Linked DNA regions of Homo sapiens: all the other regions are linked to region 4. Evidence: fine-mapped expression QTL. A gene starts in region 4. Each other region holds a variant in brackets. All regions are shown on one strand. Distances are between the middles of the regions. Region 1 overlaps SHLD1 (shieldin complex subunit 1). Region 2 overlaps SHLD1 (shieldin complex subunit 1). Region 3 overlaps SHLD1 (shieldin complex subunit 1). Region 4 holds the start of SHLD1 (shieldin complex subunit 1). Region 5 has its middle 63 kb from the start of SHLD1. Region 6 has its middle 58 kb from the start of GPCPD1. Region 7 overlaps SHLD1 (shieldin complex subunit 1).

The links. PIP is the estimated chance that this variant, and not a neighbour inherited with it, causes the effect.
Region 1: its variant is the best candidate, but not a certain one, in a credible set for the expression of SHLD1 in CD8 T cells (CEDAR, PIP 0.89).
Region 2: its variant is the best candidate, but not a certain one, in a credible set for the expression of SHLD1 in blood mononuclear cells (TOPMed, PIP 0.83).
Region 3: its variant is the best candidate, but not a certain one, in a credible set for the expression of SHLD1 in whole blood (INTERVAL, PIP 0.53).
Region 5: its variant is the best candidate, but not a certain one, in a credible set for the expression of SHLD1 in whole blood (TOPMed, PIP 0.84).
Region 6: its variant is the best candidate, but not a certain one, in a credible set for the expression of SHLD1 in whole blood (TOPMed, PIP 0.77).
Region 7: its variant is the best candidate, but not a certain one, in a credible set for the expression of SHLD1 in lung (TOPMed, PIP 0.56).

What each region holds. Positions count from the first base shown.
Region 1 is chr20:5,826,805-5,830,804 of GRCh38, reverse strand. The region is part of intron 2 of SHLD1 (shieldin complex subunit 1); the gene reads right to left. Among named protein-coding and RNA genes, the nearest start is that of SHLD1, 78 kb to the right of the region's middle. RefSeq lists an enhancer at 3,451-3,952. The variant C/A (reference allele first, on the strand shown) is at 2,149.
Region 2 is chr20:5,858,154-5,862,153 of GRCh38, reverse strand. The region is part of intron 2 of SHLD1 (shieldin complex subunit 1); the gene reads right to left. Among named protein-coding and RNA genes, the nearest start is that of CHGB, 51 kb to the left of the region's middle. The variant A/G (reference allele first, on the strand shown) is at 1,772.
Region 3 is chr20:5,819,413-5,823,412 of GRCh38, reverse strand. All of the region lies in intron 2 of SHLD1 (shieldin complex subunit 1), which reads right to left. Among named protein-coding and RNA genes, the nearest start is that of SHLD1, 71 kb to the right of the region's middle. RefSeq lists an enhancer at 446-585. The variant G/T (reference allele first, on the strand shown) is at 2,349.
Region 4 is chr20:5,747,954-5,752,306 of GRCh38, reverse strand. SHLD1 (shieldin complex subunit 1) reads right to left here and starts at 1,906. Exons shown (of 3, transcript NM_152504.4): 1 at 1,828-1,906. RefSeq lists an enhancer at 2,031-2,080.
Region 5 is chr20:5,685,403-5,689,806 of GRCh38, reverse strand. No RefSeq gene overlaps it. Among named protein-coding and RNA genes, the nearest start is that of SHLD1, 63 kb to the left of the region's middle. RefSeq lists an enhancer at 1,203-1,703. The variant G/A (reference allele first, on the strand shown) is at 1,739.
Region 6 is chr20:5,666,930-5,671,333 of GRCh38, reverse strand. No RefSeq gene overlaps it. Among named protein-coding and RNA genes, the nearest start is that of GPCPD1, 58 kb to the right of the region's middle. The variant C/T (reference allele first, on the strand shown) is at 1,962.
Region 7 is chr20:5,811,517-5,815,516 of GRCh38, reverse strand. All of the region lies in intron 2 of SHLD1 (shieldin complex subunit 1), which reads right to left. Among named protein-coding and RNA genes, the nearest start is that of SHLD1, 63 kb to the right of the region's middle. The variant T/G (reference allele first, on the strand shown) is at 2,422.

The sequences.
Region 1 (4,000 bases), 79 kb before region 4:
CAAGAAACAGAACAGCACCAGAACCCCAGAAGACCTCCTTTTGCCTCCTTTCAACTATTACCTTCTAAGACTTACCACCATTCTAACACCTACATTGCTTTTTTTTTTTTTTTTTTAAGACGGAGTTTCACTCTTGTTGCCCAGGCTGGAGTGCAATGGCGCAATCTCGGCTCACTGCAACCTCTGCCTCCTGGGTTCAAGCAATTCTCCTGCCTCAGCCTCCTGAGTAGCTGAGATTACAGGCATGTGCCACTACGCCTGGCTAATTTTGTATTTTTAGTAGAGACAGGGTTGGTCATGTTGGTCCATGTTGGTCAGGCTGGTCTAGAACTCCCGACCTTAGGTGATCTGCCCACCTCAGCCTCCCAAAGTGCTGGGAGTACAGGCGTGAGCCACCGCATCTGGCCACATTGCTTTGTCTTTTATACTTTATATAAATGGAATCATGCAGTATGTACTCTTTGCTATCTGGCTTCTTTCACTCAACCTTATATGCATACAGTGGCAGTTTGTTCATTTTCAATGATGAATAGTATTCCGTGATGTGAACACACTACCATTTATTTATCTGATAAAGGGCATGTATAGAGTTTCTAGTTAGGGCCGTTATGAGTGTTGCTGTGACTATTTCAGTGCATGTCTCTCCATGAACATACGGATGCATTTCTCTTAGGTACTTACCTGGGAGTAGAACTGTCTATGTATGCTCACTTTTGAAGAAACTGCAAATAGGTATAACAGCTTATCTGAGAACTGAGGGCCCAGTTCTGCTTTTGCCTGCTTTTAGTCCTAATGATGGGGTTCTATACCAGATCTGTACCAAATCTGATCTTCTATCACCCAAGACTGAAAGACTCCCAAACCATTCTATTGCATCTACCTTAAAAATATTATCTTCACAGATATTGCCTGTGTTTTTTTTTCCTAAAGAAGAGGCTGTTAACCAAGAAGGGTAGAATAAATTATATTGTAGTTCAAGGCAAATTCTATTATAAAGGACAAGCTGCCTAGCAAAACACAACTTATAATTACATTTAACTTCAAAATAAATCAAATTATTCATACAAACCCAACCACTCACTGGTAAATTAATGAAAAACATGACAGTATTGAGCTTTGAATTGCTTCTATGCAAACCCCCAAACTTAAATTTAGGTTATTAAGGCCGAAAAGAGGCAATTAATTTGCAACAAATGCATCCGTAAAAACCTGTTACAACATGGCTGCGGAGTTAATCTTCTCTAAGTTTATAAAGACCATCTGCCCAATTTTTTTGCAGGTTTTCCTTTAGACAATCCTATTTAGACAGTCCCTCCAGACTAATTGCTTTCTTGCTTTTTGAGGGGAGAGGGAGATTAGTATCTTTTTCCAATATCTCCAGTATATAAGCTTCATAAGAGCTCTGTTATCTCAAATGTTGAGTTTAATTTCCTTTCCAGAACATATTGGTCAGAATGTTAAACCTCAAATAAAAAGATTAGTGAGTAATAGTAGGGCTTAAATAAATTAAGGCTTGTAGGCTATGTTGCTACTTTCTGTTTCCAAAAGATAATCTTTTTTCATGTTATTAAACATCATTTGTGACCTTTAAAAAGAACTCCCTGAACTCATTAATTAATAATAAAATCTGGCTGGGCATGATGGCTCACACCTGTAATCCCAGCACTTTGGGAGGCCAAGGCGGGCAGATAGATTGAGCCCAGGAGTTGAGACCAGCCTGGGCAACATAGTGAGACTCTGTCTCTACAAAAATAATTCAAAAAATGAGCCAGGCATGGTGGTGCATGCCTGTAGTCTCGGCTACTCAGGAGGCTGAGGTGGGAGAATCACCTGAGCCTGGGGATGTTGAGGCTGCAGTGAGCCAACATTGCACCACTGTACTCCAGCCTGGGTAACAAAGAGAGATCCTATCTCAAAATAATAATAATGACAATAATAATAGAATCTGGCTAGACTATCACATTAGTGAAATGATATAAAATGACATAAAATCATGCCAATTTTCAATTTTAAGACCTGATAATGCCTATTACACATCTTCAAAATTACTAAATCGATTTGAAATGGTACAAACTACAATCAAATATATTTTACTTGGCACCATCAATTTAAGAAACTGCAAATCAGCACAATAAGGACAGTGAAATG[C/A]GAAGCAAAAGAATTGCAGAAAAAGAATAATTCCCCCAATATTACTATATTCCTTATGGTGACAGAAGGAAAAGGAAATTTGTTCTTCTTGGTACAAGACCTACTTCCATGCAAGTGGAAAGGGTGGCTGCTCTAATGATGTGGGAATGGAGTCATCAAGAAATGACTCCTTCCAGCAGCAGGAAATGGTTTGAGGGGCATGGAAAGGAACTTCATAGGCCCTTCCATGGCACCTAGAGTCCCCATTCTGCAGGCCTTTAAGGTTACGATATGTTATAATGTATTATGACCAACATATTTATTCATTCAACAAACAGCTATGAAAGACCTATCACACTGTTCTAAGGTCTAGAGACTCTGTGATGACTAGCACAGATATGGCCCCTGCCCTTACGGAGTTAAAGATCTAGAAGAGGAGGTAGAACCCAGGATAAATAATTATACAGATAAATTCTAATAAGTGACACAAAGGGTGTCCCCAGAGGAGATGACAGTGACTAAATCTAGATGTATGTTGGGGGGAGGCAAGTTAGGGAGTGACTTGGTTACATACAACATGCAATATAGTTAATCAGTGTTGAATATGCTGACTCTACTCTTTATAACTAACACCACCTTTAACCAAGTAAATGATATTCATCGTATCTTTGCATCAGTCATTTCAATGCAACTAATTTTTTGAGCACTTGTTTTTATTTCAACTACTTGGAGGTACCACAAAGGAATGCAGAGATGACCATGGTGTAGTTTCTACCCACAAGAGTGAATGATCTGGTCTATAGAGGAAGTGGTCCACAAATAACTGGCAAGACCACAGCATGAAGTGCACCCTAGTGAAGTACGCACTGTAATGAAGTACGTGTCGAATCAGCCGTAAGGGAAGCTAACTGGAGGCAAGGGAAATCTGCAGAGAGCAAGGGGATTCAGGCTGGATCCTAAGACTATATAGCATTTCTCCAGGCCTAGGAGGGAAAGGCACTCCTGGGAAAGGGAAGAGGTGTGAAAAGTTGAAAAGAAGTGCAAAGGTCATTGTGTATTTGGTGAGCAGGCTGCAGACTGGCAGAATGGCAGGGGAGGAGGGTATGGGGACAGAGATGGGGGGCCTGTGGGTGAAGGCAGGTGGGCCAGACTGCGGGGGCCCATGACTCCAGGCTGGGTGGGGGCTGCAGACTGGGGGTGCCATAGGGCACTGTGCAGAGCTCTTCCACTTGACCTCTGGTCTATATCTGCTCTCCCCGTCTCCACCCTGCTCTGCCCTTGGGAGGCGGACTACGTGGACTATGGCTGATGGCTGCCCTTGCCCTCCAGCTTCGGGTTGGGAGCCAAGAGGAGGCCTGGCAGGAGGTGGAAGGAGGGAGGAGGCAAGGTTGGACTATTTACATCCTTGGATCCCTTCCTGGGCTGGCGGCATCCCTCCAGCAGGCCCACAGCTCGCATCAAGACAGCCCCTCCACACAGCTGCTGCGAGCACACGCTCTCATGGTGGCGGGCCCCAGGCTCTGTGCTTTCCCTGTGGGTGCCACGCCCACTCATGCCTTTGTACATAAGCTCTTCATTAAGCTCTCCTCACTTTACCTGGTTGGACTGTTTCATCTCTTCTCCACCAGGACTTGAGCTGATACAGTCAAGCAGCAAGGAAATGGGGTGGGAGTGGGGGCTACTGACGGCATTAGGGGCAAATGCAGAGAGGGAGGGTCTGGGAGAAAGAGGGGACTGGGGGATGGTAGGTGGTGATGTGGTGAAGGGGGGGATATGAGGGAGGGGCGATGACAGACTAGCCACAGACCACAGCACTTACGTGAAACCTATGCGTGCCAGGCCCTCTTCCCCAGGCTTTCACAGAATTCATTTA
Region 2 (4,000 bases), 110 kb before region 4:
CCCCAACATGACTATATTTGGAGAGAGGGCTTTTTAGGAGGTAATTAAAGTTAAATGAGGTCTATAGGTAGAATCCTAATCTGAAAGGATCCTTATAAGAGGAGGAAGAGAAAAGGAGATCTCTTTTTTCTTTCTCTTTGCAAGCACTAAGGAAAAGCCATGTGAGCACACAGTGAGAAGGCGGCTGTCTACAAGCCAGGAAAGGAGCCCTCACCAGAAGCTGACCAGGCAGGCACCCTGCTCTTGGACCTCCACGCCTGACCCTGATATAAGCTTTTATAAATCACTAGCTTTGACATTTCCCTGCCCCTACGAACTCAATCAGTAGCTACAATAAACATATCTGTACTTGCCAATGCTGAAGTAAGGTGCATGGTACAGTGGGTGGAGCTTTAGGAAAGGAGGTAGGATTTTGGTTTGGGCCCTAGTTTTGCTACTAGCTGGAAATGACATCTTGGACAAGTCATACAACCTTTCTGGGCTTCAACTTTCTCAACTTTAAAATGAGGGTTTTACTAAACAATCTCTCTTCTAGAATGTCTATGGTAATGTAAAGATCAGAGAAATAGATTATCCGGAAGTTATCAGCACATTCTAAAAGAATATGGACATGTGTTCTTTGAGTCACACGCAGGCCTACACATGGACAAGCATTCATCCATTCAACACTTATTTATAGAAAGCTGATATTAAGGCAACTCATTACAAGTTGTTGAAGATAGACAGATGGATGCTGAAGATCATGTCCCTCATCTGAGGTACTTGGAATCTAAGTAGGAAGAAGAGACATCGTTACAGACATTAAACAACTGAAATATAGTCACAGGATGTACATAGATATGAAATGATGTAGTGACATTAACTGGGACACTGTGGACTCTGTGGAAACATGCAGTGCCAGGGTAGCAGAATGAGTGCATGCTCCCTCTTCAGAGGAGGTGACCTGCAATCTTATTCTGAAAGGACCACGCAATGGAGAAGCAGAGTTGATGAACAAAAGGCCAGTGGCAAGAAGAAATAGAAACTAAATGTCTCCTTGGCTGGTTCCAGTTCTCCTCCTCTGCCAACTGGCCTTTCTTCAGCAGCCTGAGACCCAGCCTGGAGGCTCAAGGAGAGAGAGAACTCAGAATGGCCAGGGGGCACCCAAAACAGAGAACACGCTTTGTAAAAAATTCGATAGCAGGGATGGTATTTCCACTACACTAGTTTCCAGAAAGCTTAAAGCTATGTCCCAGGCCCGTCTTTTTTTTTTTTTTTTTTTTTTTTTTTTTTTTTTTAAAGAATAGTAAAGAAACTTTCCTTGACCTTGCTATGCCCAGAGCTTTTACCCAAGTTCTTCCCAAGAACACTATCACTGGACTGAAGCCTCCAGGATGGGTGGAAGGGGAGGGAGACAGATGCTGGTCTCTTTCTTGTTCTGATGGCATAGAAGCAGCAGGAGAGGAGTTCTTGGCCTGTACTCTTCAGAAGTGCCAGGTTTGTGAAAACCAAGGAAGGACTGAGCTACTGTCCCAGAATGAAGGAGGCTAAAACAGCCATGACAGCCAAATGCAAAAAAAAACTTTTTTTAAACTTCATCTTTTCATTGTAAAGCACATTACTGGGGCAACTGGAGAGCTGTGAATGGGGTCTGAGGATTAGATGGTAGTAATGCATCACTGTTAATTTCTTGATTTTGATGATTTTATTGTTTTAGAAGAGAATGTCCTTGTTTGTAGAAAAATCAGGATTGGTGGCCTGATTTTTTGTGAGCAAATCTCAAATAATTCAT[A/G]AAAAAGGGCTCTTTGTTTTAAAAAATTGTTGTAAAAAAATTAAAACAAACCTCTGGGGGGATAGATGTAAAAACTTCCTTTGCTGGCCTACTTTAATATCAAGCAACCAAATAAGAAGCCTTAGCTTGGGTAATTGCCTAACAAATGATGCTGCTGTTAGAAAGCTGAAGGGAGAAGGAGAGGGAATGGGGTCCCGTGATGGCAGGATGAAGGGTCCCTTCCTACCTTCTTACCCGCAGATGACCTTGTCCTGGGTAGGGGTTGGGAGGTGGTGGCTGGAAGACAGAAGCTGGGAAGGGCCAATGGGGTGGGTGGGAGAGAGCGGGGGATGCCCACCAACAACACTGGGAAAGTTGAACCCTCAAAACTGTCCACGTACAATAGAAAACGCCAAGCAACATGGCACGTACTTGGTAAGTAAATTGTCAATGTGCTTTGATATGCAGGATTTAAAATTTTCATCTGTGTTTCATTTAATTTAAAAATTTTGAAATCCAGTGTCCACAAAAGAGGCTAAAAGCTAGCTGTCTCCTATACTTTTCATGCACATGTCAGGCAGTCTGCCAGTCGTCTTCAGAGAAACAACCCTTCCCCTTCAGAAGACCAATGACATACGGGTTGAGTCATTTACTATGTCAGTTATTTTGAATGCTGCCTGCAGTCCATTTCAGTTTTTGATTTCCTTTTAAAATTTGCTTTACTACCAACTATAAAGCCTCCTCTCTAATCATAAGGCTGTTGTAGCTTTTGGATGTCACCATTTCTTTGCCAGCAAATGTAGCTAATTGCTTTTCCTTTCCTGATGTGTCCATGTGTGGAAAGAATGATGGTACTAGTCAGTTCGTGCTCAGTGATGCATCCTCCCAGTTACGTTCAAACCCCACCTTATTCTCTCTGTTGGTATATTCCAACCTTGTAGAGCTGTCAAAGGGGGATAGCAACGTCTTCAGGGAGAGTCTAGGGATGTTTTTGTGTCAGGGATTGCAAAGTGCTACTTGCATTTAGTGAGTGGGGTCAAGGATGTAAACATTCTACAGTGCACAGGACAAACAAAGAATGGTCCATCTCCCAAATACCAATAATGTCCCCCTGCCCCTCACCCCTCCCCTGGGTCAAAGGATGGATCTTGAAAGGAGTGGGAACTCAATGTTGACTCCCGCTGCACTGTAATATGTTGATTTGCCTTGAGCTCCCTAAGAGACTTTTGCTGTTGGTCCCCATTCCCTGCACAGCACCCTTCTTGCTGGTACCTATTCGAGTTACACATTTTCCCTTCTCAGACCATGAGATGGCTTTTTTACCCCACAACAATGGTTGAGGGGGAAAACCATTGGCCCTGGTCCCAGTGATTCTGGTATTATTTAAATTGAATGGAACTTGCCTTTTTATATATTTTCCATCATGAATAGGATTTCTTTAGAAATTTACAAGAAGAAAAGGAGGAGGGCAGGGCTTGATATCACAATGCTTTTGCATGCATCCAATTGTTAAATTTTCTCTTTGCCAACAAGAAAAGAGATAACATATAGATACTTCAGATTCCTTTTGAGGTGAAGTCTTACTCTGTCACCCAAGCTGGAGTGCAGTGGCATGATCTCAACTCACTGCAGCCTCCACCTCCTGGGCTCAAATGATCCTCTCACCTCAGCCACCCGAGTAGCTGGGACCACAGGTGTGTGCCACCATGCCTGGCTAATTTTTTGTATTTTTGGTAGAGATGGGGTTTTGCCATGTTGGCCAGGCTGGTCTCGAACTCCTGGCCTCAAGTGATTTGCTCACCTTGGCCTTCCAAAGTGCTAGGATTATAGGCATGAGCCACCACGCTCAGCCTGATACTTGAGATTGTTATACACCTAAAAATATTTTTATATATTTAGGAGTTGTAGGTGCTTATTTGAATTCAGAAGACAGTCAACTGGCATGGAGCACTTGAGATTAATAGTTGTGTTCTGCAAGAGATGCCATTAGCCTTTAGAAACCCAGATATCTAATGAGGGATTCTTCCAGAGAACTTTCCATGGCTATTTCTGTGGTTCATAAATGCACAGCAGGGTTTCATCTCCGTGAAACATTTTTGCCTTCAACTGTAACAAGTTTCTACTAAATAGATTTGATATTTAGAATTCTGCCTTCTGCATGCATCTGAATCAATAGCCACCCACCCACCCTGCTTGATTGTCCAGAGTTTCTTTTACTAGCAATTGCTGATTAAGAGGACCTATGTATGG
Region 3 (4,000 bases), 71 kb before region 4:
TATGACTCATGCCTTTGGGAAGCCGAGTCAGGTGGATCACTTGAGGTCAGGAGTTTGAGACCAATCTGGCCAACATGCCAAAATCCTGTCTCTACAAAAAAATACAAAAGGGACTGAAGGCAGAGGGGTGGAGGGAAGAGGCCTGAGGCCTGAGGTCAGTAAGAAGTGCCTTGAAGAGCCAGCAGAGGAGGATGAGAAACAGCAGCCAGTGAGGGCAGGAGGAGAAGCTGAGGGAGGGGTCCCAGGAGCCAAGGGAAGAACAGGTATCCGGGAAGGGGGGGATCAACAGTGTAAAACGCTGCTGCTTGGTCAAATACAAAGGACTGGGAACCGACCACTGGATTTGGAAGGACAAAAGACACCACAGTTCCATAACAATAGCAGTGGTGGAGTATATATGGGGGTGGGGGCGGGGTGGGGGAGGGAAGGCAAAAGTGTGACTGGAGTGGGTTGGAGAGAAATCGGGAAGGTAAGAGGTGGAGAGAGTGAGTATAGACAAATAAGACACATCTTTCATAGCCTTCTGCTATAAAAAGGAACAGAGAAACAGGGCAGGACCTAAAGAGGAACCTGGGGTCATGGATTTTTTTTTTTAGATGGGAAATATTACATCATCTTTGTATGTAGCCAAGAATGAGCCAGTCAAGAGAGAAAGATTGATAATGCAGGAGTGAGGGGTTAACGGTGGGTGTGAAGTCCATGACTAGGAGAGAGGAGATGAAGATTAAGTGGAGGGGCTGGCCTTAAGCAGGGCATAAACAACTCACCCACTGTAACAGTCTTCTTGGTGGCTGCTCCCTGCTTCTCAGGTACGATAAGGAACCACACAATTTGTCTCACTGCTGGGACTTAGGGACACAAGCACACACACTCACACACATGCACACAACAAAGCAACACAGCTCTGAGCACTCACTTTATTCATTTATTTATTTTTAATTAATTAATTTTTTTGAGATAGAGTCTCACTCTGTAGCCCAGGCTGGAGTGCAGTGGTGCGATCTTGGTTCACTGCAGCCTCTGCCTCCCAGGTTCAAGTGATTCTCCTGCCTCAGCCTCCCAAGTAGCTGGCACTACAGGCACCCGTCACCACGCCCGGCTAATTTTCTGTATTTTTAGTAGAGATGGGGTTTCATCGTGTTGGCTGGGCTGGTGTCAAACTCCTGACCTCAGGTGATCTGCCCGCCTTGGGCTCCCAAAGTGCTGGGATTACAGGCATGAGCCACCATGCCTGGCTTTGAGCACTTACTTTAAATCTCTCAAGAAAATTAAATTAAATGAACAACTGAAGCAGTAAATGTTAGTTCACCTGAGTCAACACAAAGAACTTTTAGTTAATAAACTTTGCCTGGCCAGTCACCTATGAGGTAGCCAGCATCCAGGATGGCTCCTCACCTCCTAGCACTCACACCCTCAGGTGGTCCCCTTGCATGTGGTCCCAGGGTTGGTCTGTATGACTGTCGAGTGCAGCAGAGGAGATGGCCCATCATGTCTGAGATGAGATCATGAAAGACTCCAGGGCTTCTGTTTGGCTGTCTCCCTCTCTCACGACTCACTGTGGGGAAGCTGACTGCCACAGTTCAAGGACACTCAGCAGCCCTGGGAGAGGCCCATGTGGAGAAAAACTGAAAACTCCAGCCAAGCATCCGGTGGCAGTCTTCTCTGAAGCAGCTCTTCCAGCTCCAGGGAAGGTTTCACTTGGCGGCCACCTCATGACAGACCCTGAGCCAGAACTACCCTATTAAGCCCCTCCTGGATTTCTGATCCTCAGAAACTCTGATATGATCGATGTTTGAGTTTTCCAGAAATTTGTTATTACTCCCAGCTGATAACTAAATTCCCTATCCCTCAATATCCAGTATACTATAATCAAGTTTTTTTGTTTTGTTTTGTTTTGTTTTGAGATAGAGTCATGCTCTGTCACCCAGGCTGGAGTGCAGTGGTGTGATCTCAGCTCACTGCAACCTCCGCCTCCTGGTTCAAGCGATTCTCGTGCCTCAACCTCCTGAGCAGCTGGGATTATAGGTGCACACCACCACGCCCGGCTGATTTTTGTATTTTTAGTAGAAACGGGGTTTCACCATGTTGGCCAGTCTGGTCTCGAACTCCTGACCTCAGGTGATCCGCCCACCTCAGCCTCCCAAAGTGCTGGGATTATAGGCGTGAGCCACCACCACGCCCAGCCTTAATAAGTTTAAACAAACTATATTTTACAGGCTAAAAAAATGTTGGTCACAGACTTCCAGGCAATTTTTAAAGCCCCATGTTTAATATATTTGTCATTGATGGATCTATAAATTTTTATTTTCTCAGTTGATTAAGCACAGATATTAAAAGATTTTCCACAG[G/T]ACTAGAAGTTGCTGCCTTAACATCCAATACTTAAGCAAACCGTGGATATCAAAGAAGGACTGGGAAGCTCTTTATTTTATGGGACTTTAGGGGAACTGCCTTCCCAGCAGGCTCTTCCTGAGCAGTCTGCTGGAAATTCTTTGTGTAGCTCTAAGACAGCCTAGATCTAGGACAATATATCAGGTTTTTAGGTAACAGCCTGGTTGGCTTTGTCATCCCTGGTCTCTTTCTCCAGAACACTGTAAATCAAAGGCCCAAGCTAAAGCTTGTACATCAAACCTAGAGACAAAAAGGAGAAAAGATCAAAGGAGACATAAATAAAACTTTTCCCTGTGAGACAGTATGGCAGCAGGCTAGGCCATCATTTAATATCAGTCTGAAATAATATTTTCCCTTCTTCACTTTGTGAACTTTGCCTGGTCTTTCACAACTATCCTTTTTTAAACCTTCTCATGTCAAACAACTCTGAGTTTGCCTGGTGAAAATGTCACTGTGGAAGAATTTCTTTTAATCTGAACATCTTGGAGGCTGGTTTCTTGGGTGTTCTATCACTGGGTGGTGAACTTCAAGAGGGCAGACACTGCCTTTAATTCACACTTCATCCCCAGGGGCTAGCACAGTGTCCAGCACATAGCAGCTGCTCATTGAATTTTTGCTGAATAAAGGCACTGAATTTGCTTTCCGTCTCTGAAGATCTACCAAATACTCTTTTGTATCCGTTGAGTATCCGTTGAGTGTTTATTGGCGTAGCATGGTGCAGGGAACCATCAGGGACATGAAGCTGAATGTGACATATATTTGAAGCATTTAATAAGACTGGCTGGGCATGGTGGCTCACGCCTATAATCCCAGCACTTTGGGAGGCCGAGGTGGGCGGATCACCTGAGGTCAGGAGACAAGCCTGGACAACCAACATGGTGAAACCTTGTCTCTACTAAAAATAGAAAAATCAGCCAGGCATGGTGGCACACGCCTGTAATCCCAGCTACTGGGGAGGCTGAGGCGGGATAATCACTTGAACCCAGGAGATGGAGGTTGCAGTGAGCTGAGATCACAGCACTGCACTCCAGCCTGTCTGGGCGACAGAGCAAGACTCCTTCTAAAAACAAAACAAAAAACAAAAAAAAAACACTGTCAAGTCCTCATTATGTATCCACCAGAACTCAGTAATTTTTTAGGCACAACACAAAGGTGTGGCTGTCTTAGCAAGTTACATGATGATTTTATTGTTGTTGTTTTTAAGAGACTGGGTCTCACGCTGTCATTCAGGCTGGAGTGCAGTTGCACCATCATGGCTCACTGCAGCCCTGGCTTCCTGGGCTCAAGCCATCCTCCTGCCTCAACCTCCCAAGTAGCTAGGACTAAAGGTGTACTCCACCATGCCTGGCTAATTTTTTTATTTTTTGTAGAAACAGGGTCTTGCTGTGTTGCCCAGGCTGGTCTCGAACTCCTGACCTCAAAGGATCCTCCTGTCTCAGCCTCCCAAAGTGCTGGGATTACAGATGTGAACCACCATGACTGGCCTACATGATGTTTTAATATGACAACAGCCAACATGACAATAGTCGGTGTTGTTCCTACAGTGCATGAAATCAGTAAGCATTCATTGAGTACTTCTTATATGTGATGAAAGTGAAGCAATTACAAAGGC
Region 4 (4,353 bases):
CTTGTGTCTCAGCCTTCCAAGTAGCTGGGATTACAGGCGCACGCCACCGTGCCTGGCTAATTTTTTTATTTTTCGTAGAGATGGTGTTTCATCATGTTGGCCAGGCTGGTCTTGAACTCCTGACCTCAAGTGATCTGCCTGCCACGGCCTCACAAAGCGTTGAGATTACAGGTGTGAGCCATGGAGCCCAGCCCATCTCTAGTCATGGCACCTAGCCCATCTATTCTCTGAGGCTGCTACTCACACTTCATCTACGTAACAAGGACCTTGAACCACACAACTCCCTTATCTTAGTTCAAGCATTCTTTTCTACTGACTTCAAGTCTTTAGACAAAGCTTAACTCTCTCAAGCAACTGTCAGCTAAAGAATCCCTAAAATCCACCTAAGACTTCTAAGACCACCCTTGGACATATCCACCTTTTTGGGTCTAACCAATGTATACCTTCCATGTATTGATTTATGTCTTTGCCTGTTAACTCCTGTCTCCCTAAAATGTAAAAAAAACAAACTATAACCCAACTGCCTCGGGATCACTTACTAAAGACTTTTTGGGTTTGTGTTTTCTCTCTGGGCGATGGTCAATCATACTGGCTCAGAATAAACCGCTTTAAAATAGTTTACAGAGTTTTATTTATTTGCTAACAGTCTGACACATGATACAAAGACAAGCTTTGAAAATATTATACATAGTATAAGAAGATAGCCGGGCGTGGTGGCTCACACCTGTAATCTCAGCACTTTGAGAGGCTGAGGCAGGTTGATCAAGAGCTGAGGAGTTCAAGACCAGCCTGGCCAAGATGGTGAAACCTCGTCTCTACTAAAAATACAAAAATTAGTCGAACGTGGTGGCAGGCGCCTGTAGTCCCAGCTACTCGGGAGGCTCAGGCAGGAGACTAGCTTGAACCTGGGCAGCAGAGGTTGCAGTGAGCCAAGATCGTGCCACTATACTCCAGCCTGGGCTACAGAGTGAGAGTCATGAGACTCCGTTTAAAAAAAGAACAAAAGTCATGAAAGAAGCTAGTCACAAAAACATTGACATTATACTTAATGAAAGAAGCCAGCTGCACTGTATGATTTCATTTATATCAAACGTGCGAATTGGCAAGGCTATACAGACAGAAAGTATACTAGCAATTGTCTAGGACTTGAGGCGGAGTGGACGTGGTGAATGTAGAATGACTGCTACTGGAGGCAGGATTTTTCTTTGGAGTGATGAAAGTATTCTAAAATGAGATCACAGTAATAGATGCACAATTCTGTCAACAACAACAAAAAAACCCTTAATGTTACCCTTTATTATTTATTTTTGGGTACGTTGTCTTGCTCTGTCTTCCAGGCTGGAGTGCAGTGGCGCGATCTGGGCTCACTGCAGCCTGGAACTCCGGGGCACAAGCGATTCTCCCACCTCAGTCTCCTGAGCAGCTGGAACTACAGGCGAATGCCACTATGCTAGGCTTGATTTTTTTTTACGCTTTAAATGGGCAAATTTTACTTAGTAGGTGAATAGAAATTTCCCAAGAAAGCTGTTTTTTTGTTTGTTGGTTTTTTAGCAGAACCTCCTGAAGTGGCAGGTCACTGAAAAAATTTAAAAAAAAACAACAAAACCGAAGCTTATCCATACTCACTATCCACAAATTCCCAAAATTCCCCAAAGCACAGGCTGCAGACACCGTGTGTTGGGGCGGAAGGGGCGGGGAGCTAGCAGGAAATCCTGACATGCCTAGGAAAGCCTCCATAACTTCCTAATTGAGAGAGAACGATCAGATGCATTGCTGTGACCCCCGCCCCCACCACTCCAACCCCCCCCCATCCCATCCCGCGCTTACCTCTCCTCCAAAGCACTCCAGAAAACTGAGGAGAAAAGCCGCCAAGCCCCCCGACACACTCACCATCCGCAACCGGAACGCGGAAGCAATGGCGCCATCTTTTTTATGGGAAATGTGAGGTTCGAAGGAAGTCACCGGAGCCATCCTTACTGCGGGCAGTGAAGGGCAATGGAAGCCGGTCGCGGCCATGTTGACTGAGGCTTTTGGCCTGTCAATGAGGCTTGCCACATGTGGCTATTTTGGGCAATTTCCTGAGGAGGCTTGTCGATAAATGTGCTTGGTAAACCCTAAGGGAACAGAAAAAATATTCAAAAATTTAAATGTTGGCCGGGAGCGGTGGCTTACGCCTGTAGTCCCAGCACTTTGGGAGGCTGAGACGGATCACTTGAGGCCAGGAGTTTGAGACCAGCCTGGGCAACATAGGGAGACACTGTCTCTACAAAAAAAATTTTTTTTTAATTAGCGAGGCATGGTGGCACATGTCTGTAGGCCCAGGTAGTTGGGGGGCTGAGGTGGGAGAATTGCTTGAGCCTGAGAGGTCAAGGCTGCAGTTGGCCATGTTCTTGCCACTGCAGTCCAGCCTGGGCAACAGAGCTAGACCTTGCCTTTTAAAAAAAAAAATTCGTCTGGGCTCAGTGGCTCACGCCTGTAATCCCAGCACTTTGGTAGGCCGAGGCAGGAGGATCACCTGAGGTCGGGAGTTCGAGACCAGCCTTACCAACAGAGAAACCCTGTCTCTACTAAAAATACAAAATTAGCTGGGTGTGGTGGTGCAGCCTGTAATCGCAGCTACCCGGGAGACTAAGGCAGGAGAATCGCTTGAACCCAGAAGGTGGAGGTTGTGGTGAGCCAAGATCGTGCCATTGCACTCCAGCCTGGGCAACGAGAGCGAAACTCCGTCTCAAAAAAAAAAATAAATAAAATTCAATGTCTTGGAGAGGGTGGGGTGGCATGCCCCTGTAATCCCACTGCTTTGGGAGGCCAAGATGGGAGGATTACTTGAGGCAAGGAGTTCAAGACCCACCTGGGCAACACAGTGGAGACCTTGTCTCTACAAAATGGTTTTGTTTTTTTTTTTTTGAGACGGAGTCTCGCTCTGTTGCCCAGGCTGGAGTGCGGTGGCGCCATCTCGGCTCACTGCAAGCTCCGCCTCCCGGGTTCACGCCATTCTCCTGCCTCAGCCTCCCAAGTAGCTGGGACTACAGGCGCCCGCTACCACGCCCGGCTAATTTTTTGTATTTTTAGTAGAGACGGGGTTTCACCGTGTTAGCCAGGATGGTCTCGATCTCCTGGCCTCGTGATCCGCCTGCCTGGGCCTCCCAAAGTGCTGGGATTACAGGCGTGAGCCACCGTGCCCGGCCTACAAAATGGTTTTAATAAATAAATAAATAAACTTGAATGTCTACATTTTAAAAATATGAAAAGTAGAAATTAAAGATGAGGATGAAAATATTGTAATATTCTGATGCATGCAGATAACTACATAACTGCCACAACTGCAGGACCACAAAAAAGAGACTGTCTAAAGACAAAATTACAAAATTAAGATTTAGCTTAAAGATCTAATTGGCTTTTGTTTACAATTCTAGAATCAGGCAGCATCTCATTCTATAAGATTGAATGTTCCAATGAGCTGAGCAGACAAGGTTAGCTTCATAGGCAGAAAAGGGGCTAAAGAATGCAGAAAGAGATTTGAACAAAAAGCAAATTGATCGTCCTTTTTTTTTTCTTTTTTTTTTTGAGACAGTCTTACTCTGTCGTCCAGGCTGGAGTGTCCTGGTGCGATCTCAACTTCCATCTCCTGAGTTAAAGTGATTCTTGTGTGTCAGCCTCCCTAGTACCTGGATCACAGGCGTGCACCACCATGCCCGGCTAATTTTTGTATTTCTAGTAGAGACAGGGTTTTGCCATGTTGGCCAGACTAGTCTTGAACTCCTGATCTCAAGTGATTTTCCCGCCTGGGCCTCCCAAAGTGCTGTGATTACAGCCATGAGCCACCGCACCCGGCCCTGCAAATTGATCATTTCAAAGTTACTTTCCTTGTAGGGTTAAAACAGAGAAGACTTCCTTATTATATTTACTCAGATTGACTGGAATCTCCCGTTTTCTGGAAGATGGGCTTGTTTCAAAGTTCAGTTTGATTACATGGCACTTAGCACAAGTAACTCAGTTCTGATTTGGCCTGGCCTGCTGGGGCCTAGTGGAGGAGGTCAGACCAAATCAATTGCCTCTTATAAAATTTAACAAAACTGAGGGCTCTTTTCCCCTTTCACCATTTTCTTGAAAGAGTAGTGTATACTCATAGCCTCCTATCGATGCCTAAATTGGAATAATAACCCATAAATTAGGAGTCCTGGACTTAAGATAAATATTTTACCTATACACTATTTTCTTTTCCTTTTATTTATTTATTTATTTATTTATTTTTTGGAGATGGAGTCTCACTGTGTCGCCCAGGCTGGAGTGCAGTGGCGCGATCTTGGCTCACTGCAACCTCTGCCTCCCGGGTTCAAGCAATTCTCCTGC
Region 5 (4,404 bases), 63 kb after region 4:
GCTCCTGGTCTGCCCTTGAAAGCACCGGTTGGAAACCAATTTCCGTTCCTTGACAAGGGAAACCCTGTTTACACTCAGGGTTTCCTACTCTGTTACATAAGGGTCCGACAGTCACATTTCCTCCTCATGCTGTACAAGCAGTTTATTTCAAGCTGCGTCTACACACAGCAACTGGACATTTGCAGAAATCTTAGGGCCGTAGTCCTGCAGCATAGCCAGACCCAAAGCAGGGTACGTTAGGGTTCAAGGCCACCCTGTGCCCTCTACTTTCAAAGAAAATATCCTTGAGTGGTGGAATTTGGGTAATTTTAACTTTTTAAATTGATTTTTCTTTTTTTTTTGTTGAGACAGATTTTCTCTGTCTCCCAGGTTGGAGTGCAGTGGTGCAATCTCAGCTCACGGCAACCTCTGCCTCCCAGGTTCAAGTGATTCTCATGCCTCAGCCCCTCGAGTAGCTGGGATTACAGGTGCGCCCCACGACGCTAGGCTAATTTTTTGTATTTTTAATAGAGACAAGGTTTCTCTATGTTGGCCAGGCTGGTCTTGAACTCCTGGCCTCAAGTGATCTGCCCACCTCGGCCTCCCAAAGTGCTGAGATTACAGGAGTAAGCCACCGTGCCAGGCCTAAATTTATTTTTCTGTTTTTCAAAATTACATAACCGTCATGTTTTACTTTTATACTCGGAGGAAAAACATAAGCTTTGTTTAAAAAAAAAAAATCAATGATCGAATCAGCCTCTCTAATAGCCTACCCAAAAAGAAGTCCCCCTTTAGTGTGACTGGCTACCTCTTTCCAGACAGAAACTGAGGGCCAGAGTGGGTAACCTGTGACCCAGAGTGGGTAACCCGTGGCCCAGAGTGGGTAACCCGTGGCCATCTGGCCAGTAAGTGGCTGACTCAGGTCTTCATGTGATGACCCTGGGCATAGGTCTTATGTTAAGGTGGAAACCCCTAGAAGCTGACTCTGAGACAAGGACTCTTGTGCAAGTAGCTTATGTGGGAGGTGACTCCAGGAAACACCCGTGGGGAGGACGGGAAAAGGGAGCGGGGGCAGAGCGGTGGGGAGGGCGGAGACTGAGACAGAGAGTAGCTAATTAAGGGACTGGGGAGAAAGGGAGCTGAGCTGCATTTGTCCTCAGGGCACCTCTGGGAGCCAGTGTGGAACACACCTCTGCACGCTGCCTCTGCCGGGAAAGGCGGCTGGAGTGTTGAACATACCACCCCCCATCAGTCAGGCAGCAAGGGCTGCTTCCGGTGTGGGGCCAAGTCCTGGACACTCTGGCCTGCCACGTTGGGGGTAAAGTGGGCTCTGGCAGCAAGAGGAAGCCCTTGAGCAGCTGGCTTCCTCTTGTGAGGAAATAAGGGCCCCTACTTCCAAGGGGCCATGAGTAGGGCCCCGCCCGATGGAGAGGTCAGAGTGAGGGGACATGGTGGGCAAGAAGAGCACCTGCTACAGGTCTAACAGGGAGCAGCCTAAACTGGACCTAGGGGGCATGGAGATCCCTAACAGCCAAAGCCATAAAGTTGCACTGCTGGTCACAGTGCTCCAATCTTCATTCAAGTGAATGGATTACCTCCAGGAAATTAGTTATGAGAGGCAACACATTAATTCATGGCGCCAAGTACCATCTATGTCAGTCAGGATTCTTTGGTTGCAAGTGACGAAACCCAATTCCAATCAGACCCAATTCCAAGCAGACACAAAGGGAAAGAGGAAGGGCGCAACACTTCCTTGCAT[G/A]AGCAGGAAGGGGAAGGTGCAAACTGTCTGTAATTCATCACATGGAGTGGGCACGAATTTTGCAATTTGTCTACCCAAAGGGAGTGCCTTTTTAAAATTTTTGCCCTAAACCATCTTCATGTTAGCAGCAGCTCAGTTATTCTCAGGAGAAGGATACCAGGCACACAGAATGACAAGTGTCCTCCTCAAAACTGTGACAGATAAAGTAGCTGCCACCCAGCAGAAAATAAGCCCACGACGGAATGGTAACTGTTGTGGGCTAAACTGCGTCCCTCAAGCAGATATGTTAAGGTCCCAACCCCTGGGACCTGTGAATGTGATCTTATTTGGAAATAGGGTCCCTGCAGATGCAATCAGGTTAAGATGAGGTCATACTGGATTAAATGGGCCCTAATCCAATATGACTGGTGTCTTTGTAAGAGGGGAAGAGGCCAGGTGCAGTGGCTCATGCCTGTAATTCCAGCACTTTGGGAGGCCAAGGTGGGTGGATCACTTGAGCTCAGGAGTTCAAGACCAGCCTGGGCAACATGGTGAAACCCCATCTCTACCAAGAATACAAAAATTAGCCAGGTGTGGTGGCATGCACCCGTAGTCCCAGCTACTCAGGAGGCTGAGGTGGGAGGATCGCTTGAGCCCAGGAGGCAGAGGTTGCAGTGAGCCAAGTTCACGCCACTGTACTACTCCAGCCTGGGTGACAGAGTAAGACCCTGTCTCAAAAAAAAAAAAAAAAAAAAAAGAGAGAGAGAGAGAAGTAACACAAGACACAGACACAAAAGGAAACACAGACACTCAAAGAGAGTGCCCTGTTGTGATGACAGGAATAGAGATTGGAGCAATACACGCAAGAACCCAGGAATGCCCAGAAGCTAAGAAAAAGGCATGGAATAGATTCTCCCCCTAGAACATTCAGAGCACACGGTCCTGCCTACACCTTGACTTCTGGTCTCCAGAACTGTCAGAGAAGCCACTCAGATTGTGACACTTTGTTATGGCAGCCCTGGGAAACTGATGCAGATGCTAACTTGACACTGGAGATCTAGAGGCAAGGAGGATGAAGTCCTGGACAGGACAAAGATCTGCCGTGGGCTCAGCATGAGGACACGGGGCAGCTAGGGTGTAAAGGGAGCCTGTGCTGAACTGGAAGGTGAGGTGAGTGCGCACCCATATGCCTCCCACCTGCGCTGCTGCCCATGGCCAAGTCTTTCTATGTGAGGAGTGACTTCCTACCCAAGCAAAGGTGACTAAGAGGAACAAAACATCCCCAACGTTTCCTTTAGATGGTTGCAGATCTTCTCTTCGAAGCCGTTACCTGAAGGTAAAGTGAAGGGGGGCAATGCTCTGTGGGAGGTCATTCCTTCAAATCTAGACGTTTTCTCATTTTCTTCGACTTCTGGGTTGAGTCTTCTTCTGCCACTCTGGCTGTAGCAATTTGACACTTAGCTAACCCTTGTTGAATGCTCCCTATGTGTTAAGCAATGTTTGTTTCGTTTTGTTGAGAGACAGGTTCTCATTCTGCCACCCAGGCCGGGGTGCAGTGGTGCGATCACGGCTCACTGCAGCCTTGACCTCCTGGGCTCAAGTGATCCTCTCACCTTGGCCTTCAGAGTAGCCGGGACTACAGATGTGCATCACCGTGCTCAACTAATTCAATTTCTTATGGAGACAGGATCTCACTAGGTTGCCTAGGCTGGTCTTGAACTCCCAGGCGCAAGTGATCCTCCTGTCTTTGCCTCCCGAAGTGCTGGAATTACAGGTGTGAGCCACGGTGCCAGGCCAAAGTCTTAAGTCTGCACTGTCTCATGCAATAGCTATAGCCACATGTGGCAATGTACATGTAAATTTAAATTAATTAAAATTAGATAAAATTAATCATTTAGCCTGGGCACGGTGGCTAACACCTGTAATCCCAGCACTTTGGGAGGCCGAGGTGGGCGGATCACCTGTGGTCAGGAATTTCGAGACCAGCCTGGACAACATGGTGAAAACCCTGTCTCTACTAAAAATACAAAAAGTAGCCGGGCCTGGTGGTGGGCATCTGTAATCCCAGCTACTCCGGAGGCTGAGGCAGGAGAATCCCTCGAACCTGGGAGGCGGAGGTTGCAGTGAGCCAAGGTCATGTCACTGCACTCCAGCCTGGGTGACAGAATTAATAATTCAGTTTCTTGGTTGCACTAGCTACACTCCAAGCACTCAGTAGCCAGTGGCTACTGTATCAGACAGCGTAGAAGATTTCCGTCATTGCAGAAAGTTTTACAGTGCTGTTCCAAGTCACTCACATGTATTACCTTATGCAATCATCACACCTCCTCTGAGGTAGGTTCTACTATCATCTTCATTTTAAAGTTGAAGAAATTGAGGCTTAGATCACAGAACAAGTAAGTCAGAGGAGCCAGGCTCGGCAGAGCATTCAGACCAGGCAGAGTTGAGGCACCACAGATTTCACCCATTTTCAGCAAGCTTGGCTCAGGTGAAGGCTCCAAGTAGCCTGTCCTTTCCCACTTTTTCCTGCACTTCCTCACTGTCCACTCAGAATTCCCAGTTCCCTTAAGGATCAGGAAACTAAGAAGGTAAATATGTGTGTAGTACCCAAATATTCTGGTACTTCTCTTTCTTTCAGTTCTCCCCTTTCCAGGTAAATGATAGGATTATACTTCCTGAGCCCTCAT
Region 6 (4,404 bases), 81 kb after region 4:
TTGGACCCAGGAGGTGGAGGTTGCAGTGAGCTGAGATCGCACCACTGCACTCCAGCCTGGGTGACAGAGCAAGACTTTTTCTCAAAACAACACCACCACCACCACCACCATCTGGGCTGGAGAAATGTAAAGGGGACATATCCAAGCAGTTGGTGGAATCTCTCTCTTCTGTTTCATGGTGAGGCAGGGATTCCCAGAAGAGCATGAGCCCTGTTTGTCTGGATGCCTCTGCTCCCATCAGGGCCCTCTACAGACAGACAGCTCTGGTCACCCTTGTGTTGTAAACAGATCGCCAAGGCCCCTGGTCTCCAGCGCTCCCTCCCTCCTTCACAGGCCCCACCTCAGCATTTAAACTTCTTCTGGAACTTTTGCCTGAGCCCCAGATTCTCATGGGTCTCATTTGCTGTCTTGCTGCAGACACTGAAGGAGCTGAGCACAAACTTTCCATTATTTTCTTTTTCTTTTTTTTTTTTTTTTTGAGATGGAGTCTCGCTCGGTTGCCCAGGCTGGAGTGCGGTGGCGCGATCTCGGCTCACTGCAAGCTCCACCTTCTGGGTTCATGCCATTCTCCTGCCTCAGCCTCCCAAGCAGCTGGGACTACAGGTGCCTGCCACCACGCCTGGCTAATTTTTTTGTATTTTTAGTAGAGACGGGGTTTCACTGTGTTAGCCAGGATGGTCTCGATCTCCTGACCTCGTGATCCACCCGCCTCGGCCTCCCAAAGTGCTGGGATTACAGGCATGAGCCACCGCGCCCGGCAACTTTCCATTATTTTCAAAGGGGACATCATACTGAGTTTCTGAGGTTGTTAGAAAAATAGATGATTTGTGCCACTAAAGTTAAAGATGGGGGCATTTTTTTTAGTGGACAAAAAAGTAATAAATTTTAGGAGCATTGTTTCACTCTCAAACATCATTATAATCATGCAGAAGGAAAGAAAACTAATCACTTATGGTTCCATTACCACCTGTTTTCACATTTTTAATGACAGTCAGCAAAAGCGGTAGGTTTAAAAGAACAATTTTCGATTTCTTCTCACCTCGATTTTCTGCTAGTGAATTTCACTGTTGCGTCTTGAGTGCTTCTGTTGCAACACATGTGTGTTCATTTCTGCCTATACTTGTGGCCTCTCTCCAGCTATTAAGCCACCCACAGTTTAATTCATGTGTATCATCCGTTCATTAGGGAGTGCAAGGCAGAGGGGTTTTGAAAACTATTTTCATTCAATCTAGTGCGTGTGGAAAAAAAGAAAATTCTATTTTCTCTAATTGCATTTTCTACCATGCTCTTTGAATCCCCCTTCCCATCCCTCAGTGATATCTACAATAGATGCTACTGGAGCCTTAACAATACAGCTCTCAAATTCACACCAACTTCTTCTTGTTTTTTTGTTTATTGAGACCGAGTCTCACTCTGTCACTCAGGCTAGAGTGCAGTGGTGTGATCTTGGCTAACTGCAACCCCTGCCCTCCAGCCTGGGTGACAGGGCGAGACTCTGTCTCAAAAAAAAAAGTTAGACTCTTCCTCTCCGAGAGCTGGAAATCTATGTTCCAGGATTCTCCCTGTTCCCCACCTCGCCCAGGTGCCCTTTCCAGCCTAGTTCTCCACCGTTGGCATTCATGAGGAGAAGAGGCTCTGACCTCCTCCTTGACTGCCCTCCTAGGAGGATTCTCTCAGGCTGGGCTCTGCAGCTGGAGGCCCCCATAGAGGCGGTGGGCTCCGCTGAGATGGTGAGTGCCATTCTTTCGGAATGCCACATGACTTCATGTGAGCCCTTTCTACTCCTGAGGTCATCCCTCAGGCAAAGGCAGTCAGGTCTCCCCTCAGCCTCTACCAGCCTCTGTACTCTAGCCTTTCTCCGGGGGAAGCTTCTCTTTGCTGGACACCACCTGGGCAGCCCTAGGTATCCACCCACCACTCCACTTTATGCTCCTTCATAAGGAGGCGTGGGACCCTTGATG[C/T]ACTCTTCCTGCCCTCAGGCAAAGGGAAAGCCCTCATCCTTTCCTTGTGGGGCATGCTTATCCACAACAGGCTGCTTCATCAGGCCTCCCCTTTTCACAGTTTTTCATTCAAGAAGCACTGCCAGCCTCTGGCTTTATGAGCACTCCCAAAGTCCAGGGATATGTGTCAACTCTCCCAAAATCCCTGAATGTGTGAATATTCAAAACTGAGTCCCTGATAGCCTCCCCAAACCTGCTCCTCCTGCAGTCATCCTACCACAGCTAGTGGCAATTTCATCCTTCCAGATGCTCAAAACCCATGGAGTGATCCTCAGCTGGTCTCTCTTCCCCATACCCTATTTCCAATGTGAGAGCAAATCCATCAGCACCACCTTCAAGATACATCCAGAATCCAACCTCTTGTCATCACCTTCACAGCTATCATCTCTCACCTGAATTATTGTAATATCCTCCCAACACATCTCTCTGCTTCCAATCTGCTCGCTGTATCAGTTATCCAATGCCATATCATCCTTACTGAATATCCTTATTGGATATTATGGAGTACATTTCATAAGAAACAGCCACAAAACCTCAGTGGCCTGCAATACTAATGCCTCTGGGGTTAACTGGGGACCAGCTGATGGCTCACGCCCATGTCTGGGGATCAGCTGGTTGAGTTGACTGAGGCTATTCAGCTCTGCTCTGTGTGTTTCTCATCCTCCAGCGGGCTCGCCTGGGCAGGTTCTCGGGACGATGGCAGAAGCACAAGATAGCAAGTGGAAACCTGCAAGGCTCCTTGAAGCCTTGGCTTGGAACTGCTGTGCCATCACTTCTGTCTCATTATATGGGCCAAAGCAAGTCATATGGTCAAGCCCAGAGTCAGAGTAGAAAGTCTTTACCAAGTACATGGCTGAAATAAAGTCAAGTGGTAGGAAAGTGCATGTTGCCTCTTGTTGGGTGGAGCTGCAATGTGACAGCAAAGCATGTAGATGAGGGGAGGGATGAAGACTGGGACTTTCAACACAATCAGCTTCCCACATCCCTGCCCTGTCCAGCCTCCCATATAGCACTTCACTGCTTAAAACTCTCCCAACTATAAAACTCTTGGAAGAAAATTTAGGGAGAAAGCTTCATAACATTGGATTTCACAATAATTTCTTAGATATCATGCCAAAAGTACAGGCAACAAAAGTAAAAATAGATAAATTAGGTTACACCAAAATTTGAAATTTCTGTGCCTCAAAAGACACTATCAAAAGACTGAAGAGGTAGCCTACAGAATGGGAGAAAATATTTGAAATTATATATATAATAAAGGGTTGATATGCAAGCCATATGAAGGATTCCTACAACAAAACAAACAACCCCAGTAAACATGGGCAAATAAACATTTCTCCAAAGAAGACATACGAATGGCCAACAAGCACATGAAAAGACGCTCAACATCACTAATCACCAGGGAAATGCAAATTGAAACCACAGTGAGATACCAGCGCTCCTTTCTGGAGGCTCTATGAGGAGAAGCTGTTTCTTTACTCATTCAGGCTATTGGCAGAATTCAGTCCCTTTCGGCTGTAGAACTGAGGTCCCCTTGCTGGCTGTGAGTGAGGGCTGTTCCCTGCTTCTAGAGGCTGTCCCTTGGCTTATGGCCCCCTTCCTCTAATTCAAAGCCAACAATGGTAGGCAAGTCCCTTTCATGCTTTGAACCTCCCCTAGAGTCAGGATTTTGCCATGGTGCCCAGGCTGGTCCTGAACTCTTGGGCTCAAGCGATCTGCCCATCTCAGCCTCCCAAAGTTTCTTTTCTACTTTTAAGGGCCCATGTAACTACGTTAGACCTGTCCAGACAGTCCAGGATAATTTCCTAACCCAAAAGTCCATAAATTTAATTGCATTTGCAAAGTCCCCTTTACTAGGTAATGTAGCTTGCGCAGGTCTAAAACCAAGGATTAGGGAATTGACATCTTCAGGAGGATTGTTACTCTCCCTACCACTATGACCCCAGGTGAGAGCGTCAGAAGAACTGCCCAGCTGAGTCCAACCCAAAGACTGACCCACAGAGACACCAGCAAATAAGATGAGTGGTTTGCTATTGCAGCAATAATGTGCAGGCACATCATGACCACAATAATCTCTGATCACAAACAGCCAAAGGAAAATGCCCTTGGAATATGTACTCAAAATGCAAAGGAGTCACTCAAACCTTGAAAGCTCTCAGAGACAAAGTTCTTGGGGCTCACTCAGAAACCTGATCCAATCTTCTTGCTGTTAAACGTTCCTCAAAATGAGAAATGGGTAATCAATCTTGGAAGGACAATGGATTCTCCAAATTAATTATCAGTAAAATGTAGAGGTTGGACTCAAAAGACCATTAAATGTCTACCTATGCTCCATGCTTTTCTGATTATCTCACACCCAGCAGCATGTTGAAAATTGGTTGTGGTGGCCGGGCGCGGTGGCTCA
Region 7 (4,000 bases), 63 kb before region 4:
GGCATAGGGTCAGAATTGGTCCACAGGCCAGAGGCTGCTGACTCCTGCTCTATGGTCTTATTTACACATCATTGGCCTCCACCTCACACTTTACTGAATTAGAATCTGTATTTTAATAGGATCCCTGGGTGGTTAATAGTCACATTACATTTTGAGAAGCACTGCTCTAAGGCAGTGGTTTTTCAGCGTGGCTGCATATTAGAAGCACTTGAGCTTTTACAAAATCCTGATTCCCAGGCTGCCCTATATACCAATTAAATCAGAGCTTCTGGAGATGAGTCCCGGGCATCAAGATCATTAAAACTTGCAGTTGATGCCGATGTGCAGACAAGGCTGAGCACAGTGGTTCAAGGGGCTCATTTAATGCAATCCAACAAGCGTATCTGCTCAGGAGAGAAAAAAGCTCAATTCTCCCCCAGGGCCGCTGTCTCGCAGGCATGAATGGCTTCTGGAACCACAGAAACCCCCAAGGAACATAAGTGATGAAAAAGAACACTGGAGCAAATTCTGGATGTTTCCTTCCAATCCTCTGGTGTTGTGTGTCATTAGAAAAAGTAATTTTGGGGCCGGGCGCAGTGGTTCATGACTGTAATCCCAGCAATTTGGGAGGCCAAGGTGGGCAGATCTCTTGAGCCCAGGAATTCGAGACCAGCCTGGGCAACATGATGAAACCCGTCTCTACAAAAAATTAGTGGGTGTGGTGGCATGCGCCTGTGGTACCAGCTACTCAGGAGGCTGAGATGAGAGGATCACTTGAGCCTGGGAGGCAGAGGTTGCAGTGAGCTGAGGAAATTGCACCACTGCACTGCAGCCTGGGTGACAGAGTGAGACCCTATCTCAAAAAAAAAAAAAAAAAAAAAAAGAAGAAGAAAAAGAAAAAGTAATTTTGGAAATAAAGAACTTACTTGAAAGGATGTTAGCAATTTTACCTCAAAAGTTAAAATCTAGCTGAAAGTAGACAAGTCATTCATCTTTTTCAACTTTGGAATTATGTAAAAGAATTAATTCAATTCTATAGGGACTGTGCTCAGAAGAATTTTAAATTCTAGAACATTTAACAAAAAATATACAGATATTCCTAAATAAGCCACCACTGAGTGGTCAATATTTTTCTTTAAGATTCTTGGGTCCTATAAGACAATTTCACAGATGAAGCTTACTTTTGCCAGTGTAAGTAAATATTTAACACTTTCAAAGATGCTTCTTGGATTGATACCCAGGCAGCCATAAAGGAAAAGCAGTAATAATAGGTGTTTTGAGGGGTCGGGCGCGGTGGCTCATGCCTATAATCCCAGCACTTTGGGAGGCCAAGGTGGGTGGATCGCTTGAGCTCAGGAGTTCAAGACCAGCCTTGGCAACATGGAGAAACCCCATCTCTACAAAAAAAAATACAAAAATTAGCCGGGCATGGTGGCACACGCCTGTAGTCCCAGCCACTCTGGAGGCTGAGGTAGGAGAATCGCTTGAACCAGGGAGGCGGCGTTTGCAGTGAGCTGAGACTGTGCCACTGCACTCCAGCGTGGGAGACAGAGTGAGACCCTGTCTCAAAAAAAAAAAAAAAAAAAAAAAAAGAAAGAAAAGGAAAAAGGTGTTTGAGAAAAGCAGGCTTGTGTCTTAGTTTAAAAGCCACTTAATTCAGTTTTTTGTTTGTTTCATTTTTGCTCTATAAATGGAGGAAATAGTGCCATAAGTATGTTACTATTTCTCTTGCTCTTTTCCAATATTTGCATTTTCTCCTCTTCCACAGAAAGGTAATAGAAGAGGCACTTCATCAGAGAATTAAGTTTACAAGCAAAACAAAAATGTATTAATTTACTCCTTTAATACCAAAATTCTTCCAGACTCTACACACACATTGCCTTATCAGAGAAACCTATCCAGGCCATCATATTTTAATCACACCCTTCATCTCTAACACTGCTTTCCTTTCTTCACAGCAGCAGCTGTTACAGATTTCTTTTAGTGTCTATATACCCCTTCTGCCCCTTCCAACCATGATCCTAAGAACTAGAATTATTTATTTATTTAGAGACATAGTCTTGCTCTGTCACCCAAGCTGGAGTGCAGTGGCACAATCTCGGCTCACTGCACCTCCACCTCCTGGGTTCAAACAATTCTCCTGCCTCAGCCTCCCAAGTAGCTGGGACTACAGGCACGTGCCACCACGCCTCGCTATTTTTTTTGTATTTTTAGTAGAGACAGGGTTTCACCACGTTGGTCAGGCTGGTTTTGAACTCCTTAGCTCAGGTGATCCGCCTGCCTCGGCCTCCCAAAATGCTGGGATTACAGACGTGAGCCACAGCACCCAGCCAAAGAACTAGAATTTAAAAAGCCCTTTAAAGACCAGGCATGGTGACTCACGCCTGTAATCCCAGCACTTTGGGAGGTCGAGGCGAGTGGATCACTTGAGCCCAGAAGTTC[T/G]AGAGCAGCCGGGGCAACATGGTGAAACCCCACCTCTACTAAAAATAGAAAAAAATAGCCAGGCATGGTGGCACACACCTGTGGTCCCAGGTACTTAGGAGGCTGAGGTAGGAGTGTCACCTGAGCCTGGGAGGTTGAGGCTGTGGTAAGCCACGATTATATCACTGCACTCCAGCCTGGGTGACAGAGTGAGACCCCGTCTCAATAAAAAAATAAAAATAAAAATAAAAAGCCCCTTAAAGAGAGGGAGAGCCTTTGTCTATTTTGTTCACTGTGTATCCCCGACCCTAGGAACAGGGTCTGCAGCATAGTAGATACACAATAAGCATTTCGCTAATGACTGAAGGGACAACATTCACAACCCTGTAAAGAAGCTAGCCATCAGGGTTCAGGTAAACAATCTAACATAATACGGAGAAACAGAAAAGAACTCTGCATTTAGTGAGGCATAATACCTGGTGAAAGTAATACACATGGCAAAGCTACTTCTCATTCATGATGATTTATTTTATAAAGCAAAGACACAATTGTACTGAGCTCCTGAGGACTTCTGGCTCTGTTGTCTTACAAGAGGCCACTCGTTCACTTGTTCAAAAATTGTCGGAATTTTTAGAAATGGAAAGAAGGACTCTAAAGTTACATATATCAAAACCTCTAAGTGTCTGTTATTAATAATAGTTCTTACCATCTTCCAGTTGCCTGTTAAGCACTGAGCACAGTAATCAGTGCATTGTATACTGGATACATAGAAGTTTTCCAAGCAGTGGCCTATGGACTCATGCTAGGCCATGATGAAACCCTTACTAGTCCATGGATACGTGAGAAAAAAACACTAGGGACTACAGAAAACTGATCTTTATTTTGGGATTAGGTCCTTCTTTCATTTTGAATGTTAAAATATCCTTTCTTTTATGAAATGCTAATAGATTTGTGGAGATATTGGTATAGGTTGTTTTTAAGATTTTTGCTTGGCAAAATAAAAGGTCGGGTCCTCAAAAAAAAAAAGAAAAAAAAAGAAAAAAAAAAGAAAAAGAAAAAGAAGTTCCTAGACTAGGACTTACAGATACATATTATCCCACTTACCCTTCATAGCAATCCTATGAACTAAGTATTAGTAATCCCCATTTTACAGATGAGAAAATTAAGGCTTAAGAGAAAGTAACTCGCCTTGGGTTATACAGCCGGCAGTGGTGGAGATGGGGTTTAGTGCAGGTGTTCAAATTCATTTTTTTTTTTTTCAGAGACACAGTTTCACATTGTTGCCCAGGCTGGAGTGCAGTGGCATGGTCATGGCTCACTGCAGCCTCGACCTCCTGGGCTCAAGTGCTCCTCCCACCTCAGTCTCCCAAATAGTTGGGACCAAAGGTGTGCACCACCACACCTGGCTAATTTTTAAATTTTTTTGTAGAGACACAGTCTCACTATGTTCCCCAGGCTGGTCTTGAACTCCTGGGCTCAAGCAATCCTCCCTCCTTGGTCTCCCAAAGCACTGGTTTTACAGGCGTGAGCCACCATGCCCAGCCTCAGGTCTCCAGCTTGAAAACACATTTTTTTTTGTCTACCATTCTACTGCCAGAAG